Linked DNA regions of Homo sapiens: region 1 is linked to region 2. Evidence: fine-mapped expression QTL. Tissue or cell type: prefrontal cortex. Region 2 holds a variant in brackets; the other region holds the start of a gene. All regions are shown on one strand. Distances are from middle to middle.

Region 1 (8,176 bases), 240 kb before region 2:
GAGCCACTGTGCCTGGCCAGAACTTGTTCATCTTATAACTAAAGTTTGTACCCTTTGACCATTTCCCCATGCCCCCACTTCCTAATCCCTGGTAACCAATGTTCTATTCTGCTTCTATGAGTTCAACTTTTTTAGATTCCACATATAAGTGAGATCATACAGTATTTGTCTTTCTGTGCCTGGCTTATTTCACTTAGCAAAATGTCCTCCAGGTTCGTCCATGTTGTCACAAATGGCAGGATTTCCTTTTTTATGGCTGGATAAAACACGCGTGTGTGTGTGTGTGTGTATGTATATATATGTGTGTGTAAAACATTTTATCTGCTCATCTGTTGATGGACACAGGTTGTTTCCATATTTTGGGTATTTTGAATAATACTACAATGGACATGGGGGAGCAGATATATTTTCAAGATTTCATTTCCTTTAGATATATACTGTTAAAGGAAAAACTTGAGACTGATTAAAGAGTTTGAGAAAAGGACAAGTTACAAATCAGGGAGCCCCCCAAATCAGAATAGCTTCAAAGAGACTTCAGTGCTGCCAGTGGGGTTGGAGAGGATTTAGGGACAGGAAAAGGAAAATGACATAAATAAAATGGAAGTGAAATACAGAAATAGCCAGATTGGTTACAGCTGGGTTACAGACTTATTTGAACACCGAACAGTTGGCCACCTGTGAGTAGTATGTCTTCTGATTGGCTGAGACTTGGCTACTTGTTATAAGAGTAGGTTACAGTCTGTTTACACATCCAGTTAGATTACAGTTCACTATGTATGGATCAACCTTTAGGCTGAACTTACAAGGAAGCAGCTTTAGGCTAAAGTTAACTATACAGAAATAGGATTATTAGATTGTATTGACTTTTGGGGGAGTTGCCATACTCTCTCCCATAATGGCTCTACAAATTTATATTCCCACCAGCAGTGTGCAGGGTTCTCTTTTCTCTACATCCTCACCAACACTTCTCTTGTCTTTATTACAATACTGATTCTCACAGGTGTAAGGTGATATCTCACCATGGTTTTAATTTGCATTTCTCTGATGATTAGTGGTGTTGAGCGCTCTTCATATGCCTGTTAGCTATTCACATGTCTTCTTCAGAAAAATGTCTATTCAAGTCCTTTGCCCATTTTTAAATTGGGTATTTATTTTTGCTATTGAGTTGTGTGAGTTCCTTATAGAGTATATTTGGATATTAAGCACTTATCAGATATATGGTGCCCAAATATTTTCTCCCAGTCTGTAGGTTGCCTTTTCAGTTTGCTGCTTGTTTCCTCTTATGTGGAGAAGCTTTTTTAGTTTGATGTCATACCATTCGTTTATTTTTACTTTTGTTGTTTGTGCTTTTGGTGTTATAGCCAAAAAAATTATCATCAAGACCAATGATAAGAAGCTTTCCACCTATGTTTTCTTCTAGGAGTTTTGGGGTTTCAGATCTCACATTTAAGTCTTCAATTCATTTTGAATGGATTTTTTATGTGGTGTAATACAAGGGTCCAATTTCCTTCTTTTGAATGTGGATATCCCGTATTTCCAGCTCCAATTATTGAAGAGACTTTCCTTTCTCCATAGTGTGTATATTCTCGGCACCATTATCAAACATTAGTAGACCATATATGCATGGGCTCTCTATTTTTCTGCATTGATCTATGTATCTATTTTTATGCCAGTACCATACTCTTTTGATTACTACAGCTTTGTAATATAGTTTGAAATCAGGGAGTATGATGCCTTCAGCTTTCTGCTTCTTTCTCAAGATTGCTTTGATGATTTGGGGTCTTTTGTGGTTCCATATGAAATGTTAGAATTGTTTTTTCTATTTATGTGAAAAATGTCATTAGAATTTTGATAATGATGACATTGAATGTGTAGATTACTTTGGGTAGTAAAGCCATTTTAACAATATTAATTCTTCTGATCTATAAACACAGGCTATCTTTCTACTTATTTATGTCTCCTATAGTATCTTTCAACAGTGTCTTATAATTTTTAGTGTGCAATTTTTTGTGTGCATCTTTCTTTCACCTCCTTGGTTAAATTTATTCATATTTTATTCTTTTTGGTGTTATTGTAAGTGGGATCATTTTCTTAATTTCTTTTTGAATAGTTTGTTGTCAGAAATCAGTAATAGGAAGAACTTTGGAAAATTCACACATGTGCGGAAATTAAACAACACATTCCTGAACAGCCAATGAGCCAAAGAATAAATCAAAAGGGGAATAAACAAGTATCTTGAGACAAATGAAAATGGAAACACAAGGTACCACAACTTATAGGATGCAATAGAAACATTTTTAAGAGGGAAGTTTATAGCGAAAAATACCTACATTAAGAAAAAAGAAAGACATCAAACAACCTAATTTTATATCTCAAGGAACTAGAAGAGGAACAAACTAAGCCCCAAAGTCAGCAGACTGAAGGAAATAAAAAAGATGAGAGCAGAAATAGAAACTAGAAAAACAACAGAAAAGATCAACAGTAAAGATCAACAAAATTAACAAACCTTAGCTAGACTAACCAAGAAAAAAGGTAATTCACATAAACAAAAGTATAAATGAAAGAGGAGACATTACAACTGATATCACAGAAATACAAAAGATCATAATCAACTACTATGAACAATTATACACCAAGAAACTGGATAATTTAGGAGAAATGGACGAATTCCCAGAAACATACCATCTATCCAAACTGAGTCTTGAAGAAACAGAAAATCTGAACAGACCAATAACGAGTAAGGAGATTGAATTAGTAATCATAAACCTCCAAGGAAAAGAGACAAAGGAAAGCCCAGGACCAGGTCTGACCACATCTTTACTCAGTTTTCCCCGCGGCCCCCGGTCCCCACCCCTCTTAGCCTGTCTCCCTAACTTCCTTTCTCCTGAGGTGCTCCCCCAGGAAACTCCTTGCACCAGAATCCCCTACGCAGGCTCTGCTTATAGGGAAGAAATGGACGACAGAGGTGATGGAGTGGGGTGCGCCAATGAAGTATTTTGAATGAAACTAGCAGACACCTTTGTTCCTAAAGATTCCATCGTCACACCAGCTCTGGGATGTTTACTAGCTTCTTCACCCTGAGCTATTCTCAATCTCAGAGCCTTACTGCTCTCTCTCAATCATTCTCTCCTCCTCACCCCTTTCTTTCCAGGTTGCCAATAGGAGCTCCAAATATTTTCTGGCTATTTCATGTAGCCATCTAGTTTTCCTCAGCTCGGCTTCAGGCGCACTTTTGCAAATCAAAGCCATTCAGCAACTCAGAGGAACAAAAAGGGGCTTATTTGAAGGTAGCAGTGTCTATGACTGGCAACCGTCTGTGTGCTCCCTTACACATAGGGTCCTGTGTAAGAAGCCTACACACAATGCCTGGCACACTGCACTCCACACATGGTATGTACACTCCTTGGGCAATGCCTCCTAACGGCTTAGGACCATTCCCTGTCCTCCCGGGGCGTTTAGAATAAAACCCACACTCAGACCCTGCCTCACAAGACCCGACATGATTTGGGTCCTCACCACTCCTCTGCCCTCTTCTCACTTTCCAGCCATGGGATGACCCCTCTTTCTCTTTTCCTGCCTGAGACTCCCAGGAAACCTCTTCCCCTACCTTTTTCTACATAAATCCTACTCTCCCGCCGGCTCAGTTCAAAGCTTCTTCCTCAGAGGTTGCTCTGGCCACTGAAATTAAAAGAGGCCTCCTTCTGTTCATTTTACTAGTGGCATCGCCATGCAGTTTTCCGTGTATTACAGTCAGTTTCCTTGCGTGCGTGTTTGGCTTTTCACTTGTTTTCCCCTTGCACTGTAAACCTCTCAAGGGCAGGACACTCGCTGTCTTGAGGGGCGCTGTAATGCCAGGGCCAGGTCCCTGCTCGTCTGGCGCTCAGCCCGTGCTGCTCTACACGTGTTTGCTGAATGAATGGAGCAGTGAACCCTCAGAAATTCGCCTCCAGATGAGCGCCTTGGCCGTCTCGGCGTCTCCTGGCCTCAGAACATCACCCTTGGCTCTCCCTCAAGGGGGAGCTCCCAAAGCGAGAACGTGACCCTGTCCTGCACCCAGCCCTCCACTCCAGGGCCTCCGCCGGTACACATCTTCGGCCTCAGCCTAACGCACTCTAGCAGGCACAGACCGCCACGCCCCCACCCCTCCAGACGGAAGGACTGCAATCCCCACAAGGCACCGCGACTCAGCGCCACCCGATTGGTGAAGCCTCTGGCGTCGGCCAATAGGACGTGGCTTTGTTGGCGTGTGCCGCGGCCGCGCGAGTCCTGGAAAGCGTTGTTGGCCCGGTTGCTCTGGAGCCGGGTCTCGGGTCTGGTGGCTGCCGGCCCTGCGGCATCTCGCCATGGGGAGCACGGAGAGCAGCGAGGGCCGCAGGGTGTCCTTCGGAGTGGACGAGGAGGAGCGGGTCCGGGTGCTGCAGGGTGTCCGGGTGAGCGGCGCCGCCTGGGCCGGGGCGGGCGTGGAGGCCGCGGGCGCGGGGGGGAGGTGCGGGGCGGAGCGCAGGGCCGGGGCTCTTTCCACGCGTGAGGGGCGTGGGGCTTGGGAGACTCCGGGGGCTCAGGCCAGGAAGAGGCTGAGCCGAGACGCGAGCCCGAGGCTGGCAGCCTTGGAGCTTCGCGACATGGGCTTCAGGGAAGGAGGAGTGAAGAACTGTACAGGTGCGAGGCCCCTGGGACACGAGGGACGCCCTGGCCACGTCCTGGCTCCGGTCGGCTTAGTTTTTACGTTTCTTGAATTTGCGCCCGGCCTCCCAGCCCGTGGCCCCTCAGGTGCGCGCATCTCGTTCTGGGTACGCGGTGTCTCCCACCTGGGCTTTGCCTGGGGACTCAGCTCTTCCCCGCCGGCCTGTTCTCCACAGCACATCTGCGGGGCGCAGGAAGAACCATAGCTCAGATCTGATCCCCTTCCTTGCCTGAAACCCTCCAGTGGGTTCCTAGCGCGCTTGGATGATGCCTTCCCTGGTTCCAAAGCTGGCCGCTGCCCGTCGACCTCTGGGGACTGCATCCCTCTGGGACTGCATCTCGTGCCATTTCCCTCGCGTGGCACCCGCACCTCGTCCCCAGCCTCAGGACCGCCGTGTTTTCCTGGAGGGTGCCGCTGGCTCAGCTCAGGGTCTGTGCGCCGGCTGTTCTCTCTCCTTCAGCTCTCCTTAAATCCCGCTGTTTCTTGTAATTCTTGTTGTAATTCAGATATCACCAGAGAATCCTTCCCTGACCACCCAATCTGAAGTAACCTCCCACCCCGCGTCCAACATTTATTATTTTCATAGCACTCATCACAGTGATCGCTTCTGTTGATAATTGTTTACTTGTTTATTGCGTTTACTGCTAGAGTGTAAGCTTTTTGAGGCTAAGGTTCCTGTCTGATTGAAGACTGTCCCCAGAACCCAGAAGAATAAAAGCAGCTCTTATTGCAGTGTAGGGGCCATGCGTTGGACTAAACCCTTTATAAGTTAACTGATTTAATTTTCAACAGCCCTATTTAGCCCATTATTGTAGATTAAGGAGAAGTGAGGCACTGAGAGGTGAACGAACTGATCCAAGATCATGTAAATAGTAAGTGGGAGAGCTGGGATTGAAACAAGCCAATTCCAGGGCATGTTGCTGTGCTCGGCCTCTTCCTCCACCTGTGTCTACACCTGCAGGTGCTTTGTAAGTAACTGTGGAGAGATGAATGAACCCAGTAAAAGGGACTAGGATTAAATGAAACGCACAGAGCTGGGTGTAGATGAATTAGTTAATTAAGGAGGAATTAGGGAGGTGGCTTAGAAAGACAGACTTCAGGAGTTCTGGCAGGTGCTCATTAGCTGTGTGACCTTGGGTAAAAAACTCTTTTGAGCCTCAATGGCCACATTAAAAAAAAAATTGGGTGTGTATGTATCCTAGGTACTGCCTAGGATAAGATGATGTCTGTGAAAGTGTTAAGGAAACGCACAGAGAGAGTGCTTTGTGGAGGCCTCTCTTCTTAGCCTAGCAGAGTACTTGGCACATTTGGTGCTTGCTAGGCGTTGTATAGTTTTGTGGACCTCACTCGTGGCAAGGATTAAATGGGGGAGGAGATGGCTTGTGTTGGAAGGCCGAGAGGGAGGAACCTGAATTGGAATTTAGAAAGATAAGCTTGGCTCTGTTTGGGTGCTCTCACCCTTGTGATTTGGTCTCCTGTTTTGGGGAATGTTGGAAAGTTAAGTTGGAGTCCTCAGAGGTTCAGGGGAGTGCCTTTGGGGGTGCCTTCTTTCAAGTTGATTGGAAACCTCATGTTTTTTGAGTATTATATAAGACAGGTACATTTCATTTCTAGTTCTCTTAAATACTTCTGCAACATATAAATTCTCTGTATTTAAAGATGGAGAATTGAGCTTAAAGGAGTTAAGGAATTTGCCCAAGGTGTTAACCTGAGTAACTTCTGGGACTTTAATTAAGATCTTTTCGGTGCAAAAAGCAACTTTTTCTCACTTCTGCAATTCCCCCCCATGATGTATGCAAGGCAGCCTGAAAATTTTGTGACAATACCCATACCTGTCCTGACAGGGATGATAGTGCCCCACTTAGTTTTAAAACTGGAAGGAACTTTGGTGACTGACTGCTTTCTTTTCCAGCTGGGCAAACTAATCAGAGAGGATAAATGACTTGTCCAGAGGTGCACAGTAAGGTGCACAGCCCCACGTTATGAGAGCCACGTCCTTCCTTCTGCTTGTGTTTGAAAGAGGAAAACTGAAGAAAGGAGGTGATGGTATGAAGAAAGGATGTTTTGGTGTAGAGGCTTTTTCTGTTAGCAGAGTTACTTGAGGGTTGAGGAATTCACCTTGTCTTTAGGCAAGTGAGTGAAAAAGATTGCCAGATCAACAAAACAGTTGCCAAAGGGAACAAATCAGTTCATTTAATGAGAAGCAGATGCCAAAGAAGATCTGCCCCAGCTTCTTTAGAGCAAGTTGAATATTCTTAATGACCATTTGTATTTAATTCCTGAGGCCTGGTCTTAGAAAGTGTTCTCGTCCCTGTAAGATTAAGTGTTAGTGGCTGGTAGTGGTGGCTCATGCCTGTAATTTCAGCACTTTGGGAGGCCGAAGTGGGCAGATCACCTGAGGTCAGGAGTTAAAGACCAGTCTGGCCAACATGGTGAAACCCTGCCTCTACCAAAAATACAAAAGTTAGCTGGGCATGGTGGCACACACCTGTACACCCAGCTACTTGGGAGGCTGAGGTAGGAGAATCCTTGAACCCAGGAGGGGGAGGTTGCAGTGAGCCGAGATTATGCCAGTGTCCTCCAGCCTGGGTGACAGAGACTCCGTCTTAAAAAAAAAAAAAAAAAAGATTAAGTGCTAGGCCTTGCTAGTTTACATACTTAGTTTGCATAAATTCACAAAGTGTGTTCAAACCGTAATTCCATGGAAGGTAAAAGAAATTTAATGAATGCAAAATGCTGCAGTTATATTCAACTCCAGTTTTCAGAGCAAATGTGTGAAATACGTAAAGATTTTGTTTTAACCAGTACATTTAACCTCATCCTTCAGTAAGAGAAGGCACACATGGCAGTCATGGCGCATATGTGTCTGCCTTCCCTCTCCTCCTCTCCACATGAGCCGCCCTTTTTGGTGATTCAGCTGATGTTGGTTGCTTGTGAGCATCCAGACTGCTCACTGTTCACCAGCCTTTCCCCCTTTCCCACCACTGAGCCCACCCCTGTTCCAGTCACTTGCATGTTCCCAGAGTCATTATCCCCTCCAGGCTTGATCAACTTTACCGTCATGCATTGCTCCCATGAGGCTGATTCTGGACCACGGTGGAGGGGAAGATCAAGAAGAATGTGGTCAGACACACAAGAGAGTCCCCCATTGTGCCAGTGCCAGAGAGGCCGTGTGCCAGAGCGCTGCACCTGCAACTGCCAGTTATTCCTCACCTCAGTGAATGTCCACTGCCTTCATGTTACTTGCCCAGCACTGGGCCTGGCCTTGCTGAGACAATGAGGGACAAAGCCGAGGACCCTGTCATCATAGAGACCTCAGCCCAGTAGGGAGAATGGACCAGAAAGGAAGAGACACAGGCAAAAGACTCAAAGAGCTGCCAGAGCTAAGGAGGAAACAAAAAGGGTGCAAAAGCTACTGGGGCTGCCTGCTTGAGGTGGGATGGTCAGGCAGTGCCTCTCAGGAGGAGATGTTGACTGTGGCCTGAGCCAGCC
Region 2 (8,176 bases):
TCACTTTGTCAAACTTTCCCAACCCCACTCCCAGCCAGGAGAAGAAAATCTAGATAGACTCTTTTTTTGGGGGATAAGTGCGTCCTTTTGAGTACATCCAGTTCTATCAAATTGCCGTCACTGTTGGTCTATTTTGAAATAATTTCAAACCCATAGAAAGATTGTAAGAACAAACACCACAAAGGATTCCTGCATCTCCTTAACCAAGATTCCCTGATTTTTTACATGTTACAGAATTTGCTTCATCACCTTTTCTCTCTAGATGAAAACATTGTCTTTTTCTGACATGATAACTCCTTACCCCTAAATACTTCCATGCACCATGGGCCTCCCAAGAATACCTCCTCCTTGGTCACCTCACACTGCTGCCGATGAGGAAATCAGCACTGACTCAACAGGACTGTCAGCCCACAGACCACACTTCACCTGCTACCCTAATGTTGTCGTTTCCTTTCTGGTCCAGGAATCTGTCATGCATCATCAGCTCCTTCATATGGAACAGTTCCTTACTCTTTCGTGTCTCTCTCCACCCTGACAGACTTGAAGAAAGTGCAGGGCTTTCATCTGTAGGGAGAGCCCCAGCCCTGGCCCACCTGGTGTTTCCTCATGACCAGACTCAAGCCGTGCATTCTTGGCAGGAAGACCCCAGAACTGGTGCTATGTTTGTGAGGTGCATCCCATCAGTAGGTTCAAGAGGCCACCTGTCCTACCACTAGTGATGCTGACCTAGACCTGGTCACATTGGTATCTCCACGGTCTCCCTGCTGTGAAGGCCTTATTTTCCCTTTGTGTTTGCTTAGTATTTTGTGGGGGAGATACTCCAGTGTTATGCCAGTATCCTGATCCTCATCTAACTTCCACCCATCAGCCTTAGCTTCCATTGAGAACATTGTGATGATCTATTTCCATCATTTCTTCTACATTTATGAATTGATATTCTATTAAAGGAGGAGTTTCCCCTTCTCTCTTTAGTTATGTAACTATTCATTTATTTGGTTATGTTAGTAAGGAGTCAAGGACTCATATTTATTCATTGGGCTATAATCTATAACTTATTTTAATATTCAAAATGCCATAGATTTTGCCCTTCAAACTGACTCTCCTTCCTTTGGCATGTCTCTTCATTATTTACTTTCTAGCGCAAGGTGTTCAGGCTCATCTTGTCCTTTCTCTGCCCCAGCCCTGGAGTCAGCCGTTTCTCCCAGGAGCCACATTCCTTCTGTTGGAGGATGCTGCTAGAAACCATGCTCTGGGATCTGAGCTCCGGGTGTGCTCCCTGCTATGGAGGTGTCATTGCTTCTAGGTGCTCTCAGTGGGAAGAGCTGGGAAACATGGATGTGTGTACACAGAGTGCATGTGTATGTAGATGTGTGTGCATGTACATCCACAGTGCATGCGTGAGGACTGCCATCTGTGTGTGGGGGGGAGTATTTCACAAGTCCATAGTGATACTTCCAGTTCTAATATCTGGAGGCTCTTTGTAGGGCTCTCTCTCTCTCCTTTTCCATGTGTAAATCTCCCTTCTCATAGAGCATGAGACTTGGCTGTTTTCTTCAACAGGATATGTATTTGCTCAATCAGTGAACTTTTGTTTCAATGTAACCAGTCTCTCAACCATGCCAGCCGCCTTTTCAGCTGCCACGTCCCCTCCTGGACCCCACCGGCTGCCTTAGCTGCAAGCAGGCCACTGCCACCACCTCCTAATGACGCCCCCCACTACCACCCCACTCCCTGTGACTTCTGCTGGGAGGGAAAAGGACAATTGAAGGACAAGGCTTTCATTCTTTGTTTTTTCGGAAAACAACTCAAAGTCCTTTCGTGACTTCAGGTTGATGGAAGTTAGGAAATCGGAACAGAGTGTGCCTTCACCTCTGCATGGCTGTGGGATGTGTCCACTTTCCCTCTGCCTCGTTTTGCCTCCTCACCTGGGGTCAGGTTGTATCAGGTGTCTTGCCAGACCCCAGTAGCGGGTGGCTGACCCTGTGGTTGTTCTAAGGGAAGTCAGTTCTGGTCCAAAGCCAAGGTGTGGCAGTAGAAGTTGAGGCACATTTTCTGGGTGCTTTCTATCCTAAAAACACATGGTCTGCAGTCCCCCTTTTTCTGGGTGACATGAGGTACGGTGAGAGGTGAGTCCTGGAGGACCTCTTTGGCCTCCTCTGGTGTCCGTGATGGGGTAGCGAGGTAGGGCTGTCATAATGAAGGAGGCCCAGTGTCTGAGAGCTCTTCTTTGCAATACTTAGGGTTTACCACGGTGTTCTGTGCAGCTCCAGTTTCTGAATGTGCTCGAGGAAGACAGTAGAGGGAGGGGAAAGGGTCATAGATGGGGGGCCCAGGTCTTCTGGGAGGCCCTATAGGAATCTGTTTTTCCTTTTAGGTTATGAGTGAGCTGCCAGCTGATAAAACACTATCGCAGCTTAAAAAACTATGAACTTCATGAAAACTAATTCAGAATGGACCATAGACCTAAATGTAAAACGCAAAACTGTGAAACTCCTAGAAGATAACATAGGAGAAAAAGATGTCCTTGGGTTTGATGATGACTCTTAGATATAATGCCAAACAGTGCATGAAAGGAAGAATTGATAAGTTGGATCCACAGTGAGGATGGGAGAAGGAGGTAGGTTACAGAATTTCCACACACCTGGCAATAGGCGCTGAGCTGTGTTCAGGAATAGAAGCTAAGAGAAGGTGAGAATGCAGGACACGGCATGGCCCAGACAGACGCCTGTTCAGCCAGGGGCTGGGCACATGGTCCAGGGCTCAGCCCACCGGGTTACAAAGGCCCCAGGTCAGACTGCACACATCCACATCTGGTGTGTCAGTCAGATCTGGCCTCTGCCCCTAGAAGCTGGAAGAAGGTGGAGCCCCAATGACTTAATTATTGATGCTCTGCCTACCTCAATTTATTTATAGAATATCTGCTTCCTGCATAGTATTCTGTGAGGACCTTACAGCCGAGGTAATAAGCTGTGGTTCCTGGCTTCCAGGCACTCCTGTCTAGTGGGGAGACAGCATGTCCCACATGACTGGGTGCAGTGTGCTCAGATGGTCTATGTCACAGGACCCTCTCAGGTGAGCAGGCCAGGGAGGCCACAGAGCAGAAGTGACACTGGGTCAGTAACACTTCCTCCCAGTGAGAGGGGACAGAGAGGCGGGGCTGGCGGCCTGTCCACATAGGACTACACAGACGCACAGCACCTGTGTGACAGCGGGAAGAAGGGCAGGTAACCTTCAGGGGAAGTTGTGGTTAGCAGACAGACATGGGGGCAGATTGGAGAAGGAGTCA[A/G]GAGTGTTCCTGAAATCTGGGGCCCAGTGGCCCAGGCGTGGGGGCAGTTGATGACAATCAGGCAGGATGGAGACTTACCTTCTCCTCAGGACTGGGTCCTAGAGGGGCCGGAATGCCTCGCTGTGGAGTTGGCCTTGCCTCTAGGCCTTGTGGCTGTGGGTGGGTGAGAGGGGTCCCTGAGGGCAGGGCAGAGGTTTCATTGTTTGTGAGTCTGGTCACCATGGGATGGGCACTTAGTAAATAGTTGTCCCTTGAAGGAAGGAAGGACATTCATTTAGCATAGGTCTTTACGGGGGCGTTTTAGGCTGGTACGATGGAGTTTGTGGAAAAGGCTGGGGAGAAGAGGCCAGGTAGGAGGGAGGCTCAGGGCAGCAGAGCAGGCACGGGCGGCTCTTGTGAGGAGGACTTTGGCTCACTGTGAACTGGCCATGTGCTTGTGTGGAGCTGGCCAGCCCTCGGGTTCTGGGAGCTCTGACCTTCAGGATTGCTGAGGCCAAAGCACAGAGCTGGAAGGGCAGGCCTGTGGGGGGCGCCATCCTCTGGGGAGCTTTGGGCCAGAGCACCCCCACCATCATGAGTCAGAAAGATCCCTCTAGTTGATGTCAGCAAGGAGCCAGGCTGGAGGAGCAGACTCGAGCAGGGAGACTTGGGTTGGGAAGACTCGAGTGGGGAGACTTGGGAGCGGGGAAAGTCGGGAACAGGGAGACTCTAGGTGGGAGACTCAGGGGAGACTTGGGAGGGGGGAGACTTGAATAGAGAGACTCGGGACGGGGAGACTCAGTGTAGGGGAGACTCGGTGTGGCGGAGACTTGATGGGGGAGACTCGGTGTGGGGGAGACTTGATGGGGGAGACTCAAGTCGGGAGACTCAGGGAGACTCAAGCGGGGAGACTTGGGAGATTCGGGGGAAGACTCAAGCGGGGAGACTCGGGGAGACTCGAGTAGGGAGACATGGGGAGACTCGGGGGGAGACTTGAGTGGGGAGACTCGAGCGGGGACACTCAGGGAGACTCAAGGCAGGAGACATGGGGAGACTAAAGGGGTAAACTTGGGGAGACTTGAGGGGGGAAGTGAATTAGCCAGAAGGTGAGCTAAAGTTTCCAGCAGAGAGGCGGCAAGGACTCTAAGACGACAGGGGGTGGGGAACAGGCAGCCACCCACAGTCTGGAGTGCTAGGGACCCACCCAGTGCCAGTTGGGTGACAGCTCCCTGCTTTGTTGAGGACCCAGTGCTGAGGGAAGGTCACGTCATAGGATTGTGCTCAAGAGCCTCCCGCAGCCCCACACAGAGCAGGGTTGGGGCAGCCCAAGGACTCCCCTGTGTCCAGAGGCCATGGCTGCAAGGGGCTGCCATGGTGAGTCTCATTGGCAGAAACAGCGCCAGAAAGCTCTTCAGCCACAGGCGGGCTGGAAGTCGTCATCCCCCAGCACCAAAGGCCACCATGGCCCTGCCCTTTCCTTCCGCCTTGCCAAAGCCCAGAAAGCGCCCCACCTGGCTTCCTCTGACATCTAGTGAATGAGGGTGCATCTCCTCTTAGGGAAAGTGTGCATTCTTTATTTTTTTCCAACAAAGAAACAAAGAGGAATGGCCCTTTCTTCTTTCCGTGTGTGTGAGAGAGAAGGGATAGTCCTGGACAATCCTGTCACACGCAGCCTCTGCCTCACTAAGCAGCAGCCAGGGGCTCGTTTGTGTCTCAGGCCCTCTTGGGAGCAATGCACCCCCAGGCTCTCTCGCAAGCCTCAGCTCTCAAACAGGCCCCTCTCCCACCTGAGGGATGGGGCAGCTGGAGCCCGGCATCCTGCAGTTGATAGCAATCCCGTGTGGCGTGTTGATCGATGGCAGGACCTCTGGGTTCCACTTACCCAGGCTGAGTGGCACATCGTCAATAGCAGTCAGTTAACCAAGTCCTTAGTAACCAGCTGGTCTCATCAGCGCCTCAGCCCTAGCCACGGGTTAAAGCAGAAACCCCTCCTGAACAGCTAGATTGGACCTGACCAAGATGAATGTCTAATTCACTCGGAATCTCCTTACTGCTGCCTGTAATAAAAAGCCTGCTCCATGTATTCACCCCCCTGCTGATGTTTCTCTGAAATTAAGTATCAGGAGGACATATAATAGCCCAGTTCCACACCAGGCCAATATTATCAGATTGATGTCAGCAGTGATAATAGGAGAAGGATAAGTTGATGAGATTCCATTTATTAAATAAAGTGAAGAGAGCACACAGAGGATTTGGGGCCACACGTGTGAGCAGGCGCTGGGCGCGCTCCACAGGAGAAAGAGAGAACAGGGCCTGGCGTCTGGTCCCGAATCCCTCTTCTTGCCCACCTGGGAGCTGGAGTGCCCGCCGTCATGGGAACGACTTGGCCACCTACGATGTGTGCGCCCAAGATGGGAAGGTGCCACCCATGCTTCTGCCAGGCTGGTCTCATGACAGGACGCTTCCGCTCACTTCTGTTTGCTTTTCTTCCCACCTCATGTTGATGCTGCAGGCTGCCATGAGTTCATGTCTTCCTCTCTCACTTTCCTCCCTGTGGCTCCTGGGCTGGGAGCTTCCCGGCTGCCCAATGGGAGTTGGCAAGCTTCTGCCCCATGCAGAGCCCTGCCTAATGTGGTTCGGGGCAACTGTCTTTTCTTTTTCTGAGTACCCTTGGTTGTCTCTTTCAGAATGTCTTGGAATTTTCTAATGGCAGAGTGGAGCTCATGTGGCGGTGCAGAGAGCAAGAGCTATGGAGCTGAGCACACTCCACTCTTCCTATCCCGGGCCCCTCTCACTGCTCTGTGACTGCGGGCCAGTCACGTGAGCTGCCTGTGACTTACCAACCCCGTCTGCAGAACGGGGTGGGAAGGCCCAGCTCACAGGGTTGTTGTGAACCTAGAACACAGGAAGCCCTGACAGGCAGAAGTTCCCAAGACCACAGACATCCAGATCCACTCTCAAATGAGGCCGAATTTTCTGCCCGTGCTGTTGACCATCAGCTCCCCTCCCACAGGCTGATCCTCATCCCAGATCTCTCCCAGTGCAGAAGACTTCCTGGGCAGCACCTGGCAGCAGCTTTAGGAACCGGCTCATAAGCTACGGCTCCTCCCCTTTTCCATTATGTGGGTTAAGGTGAGTCAGTTCATCTCTAAATAAAATAACGCCTTACAGGGGAGGACAGAGATTGGAGACACCATGTGCAGACCCTGGCATGGAGCCTGGCATGTGGTGGGCATTGAAGTGTAGCGGCTATTGCTGATGTGCGCCTGGGCCCAGCCACCATGCCGTGGAAAGTGCACACTGCTCTCAGAAAACGATCAGAGATACATTGGTCCCCCGGTCATTCCTGCCCATCCCCGCTCCCCACTCTACTTCTGGGAAACGGGTCCAACCCCTTTGCAGCATGCCTGATGACATGGGTTTCCCAGGGCTGCCAAAACAAAGCACCACATGTCAGGCCTTTCAGCCCAGAAACTTATCCTCTCACAGTTCTGGAGGGCAGAGGTCCACAATTAAGGTGTTGGTGGTCCAGTCTCGCCCTCAGGCTGGAGGGGAAATCTGTTGCAGCCCCTCCTAGGCTGCTGGTGGTGCTGGCATCCTTGGCATTCCGGGACACACATACTGTTGGGCACACACATCGCTCTACTGTCAGCCTCGGTCCCCATAGTGCCTCCTCCCTGTGTTGTGGTCTCTGTGTCTCCTCTCTTCTTCACAAGAGAATATGAATGGGATTCGTACTGGATTAGGGGCCCACCCTACCCCATATGCCCTTGTCTTAACTAATCACATCTGTAACAACCCTGTTTCCCAATAAGGCCATGTTCCGAGGCTCCAGGAAGGACATGAATTTGAGGGGATCATCAAACCCACTAACCTTTGCACATGTCTAGTTCTCAGGAGCCCCTGGACCCCTCAACTTGACCAGGTTGTCTTCTTCTGACAACAATTTGTGACAGGCACCCTCTCCAAACTGACTTAATCCAAAAGTGGAACATATAGGTTTGTGCTACAGGAAAGCTAAAAATAGTACCTGGCTTCGAATTGAGGAACTCATTTGGTGTTAGAGTCTGTTTCCTTTTGGACAGTGGGTCATGGAGTTTGGAAGCCCAGCTTTATGTTCTCCCTGGAAGATCACAGTTTCACCCCATACCTTTCACTGGGCCCATGAATGGGTTCATACTAGCCCAGGCTGGCTCATGTGGGCCAAACCCATGCTACCCAGGCCAGAAGGGGAAACCTGAGAAATAAAGGGGCATCTCTGCCTTACCTGAGAGTCCTGCTGTGTGAAGTCAGTGCATTAATAGACAGTGGTGGCACAGCTCCTGCCTTATAGCACTGCCAGGTCCAGTGTTTCCTTCCCTCCAATGCTCCTGCTTGGCAGAGTCTCAGATACAGCCAGTTGTGTGCTTTGAACCAGCAGGCTGTGCTGCTGACTCTGAGCCAAGGAGAACAGAAGGGACAACCTGACCCTGTCCAACAGTCTGCATTTCCTATCTAGGCACAAACAGGCAACACTTCATAACCCAGTGGCGGCCCTGGACCCAGGAGGTTTGTGCAGTCATGGACAGCTACACAGGCGCCTGCCATGGACGGAAGGGAAGGCTGCACAGACACCTGCCATGGACGGAAAAAGGGAAGGCTGCACCAACAGGTCTGCCGTGGACGGAAGGGAAGGCTGCACGGACTCCTGCTGTGGACGAAAGGGAAGGCTGCCCAGAGGTCTGCCGTGGACGGAAGGGAAGGCTGCTGCGTGGACTGCCGCCGTGGACGGAAGGGAAGGCTGCTGCCCGGACTGCCGCCGTGGACGGAAGGGAAGGCTGCTGCCCGGACTGCCGCCGTGGACGGAAGGGAAGGCTGCTGCCCGGACTGCCGCCGTGGACGGAAGGGAAGGCTGCTGCGCGGACTGCCGCC

Direction of the effects. Positions count from the first base shown, and alleles are read on the strand shown. Sizes are in standard deviations (SD) of each study's normalised expression.
With allele A in place of G in region 2, the expression in prefrontal cortex of the gene that starts at base 4,271 in region 1 is lower (small effect, 0.35 SD a copy in ROSMAP).

The links. PIP is the estimated chance that this variant, and not a neighbour inherited with it, causes the effect.
Region 1: CHCHD6 starts here. The variant in region 2 is fine-mapped to the expression of CHCHD6 in prefrontal cortex (ROSMAP, PIP 0.95).

What each region holds. Positions count from the first base shown.
Region 1 is chr3:126,699,970-126,708,145 of GRCh38, forward strand. It overlaps CHCHD6 (coiled-coil-helix-coiled-coil-helix domain containing 6), which reads left to right and starts at 4,271. Exons shown (of 8, transcript NM_032343.3): 1 at 4,271-4,430. The coding sequence starts at 4,344. RefSeq lists enhancers at 3,851-3,910, 4,971-5,522 and a silencer at 4,461-4,660.
Region 2 is chr3:126,941,495-126,949,670 of GRCh38, forward strand. All of the region lies in intron 6 of CHCHD6 (coiled-coil-helix-coiled-coil-helix domain containing 6), which reads left to right. Among named protein-coding and RNA genes, the nearest start is that of PLXNA1, 38 kb to the right of the region's middle. The variant A/G (reference allele first, on the strand shown) is at 3,287.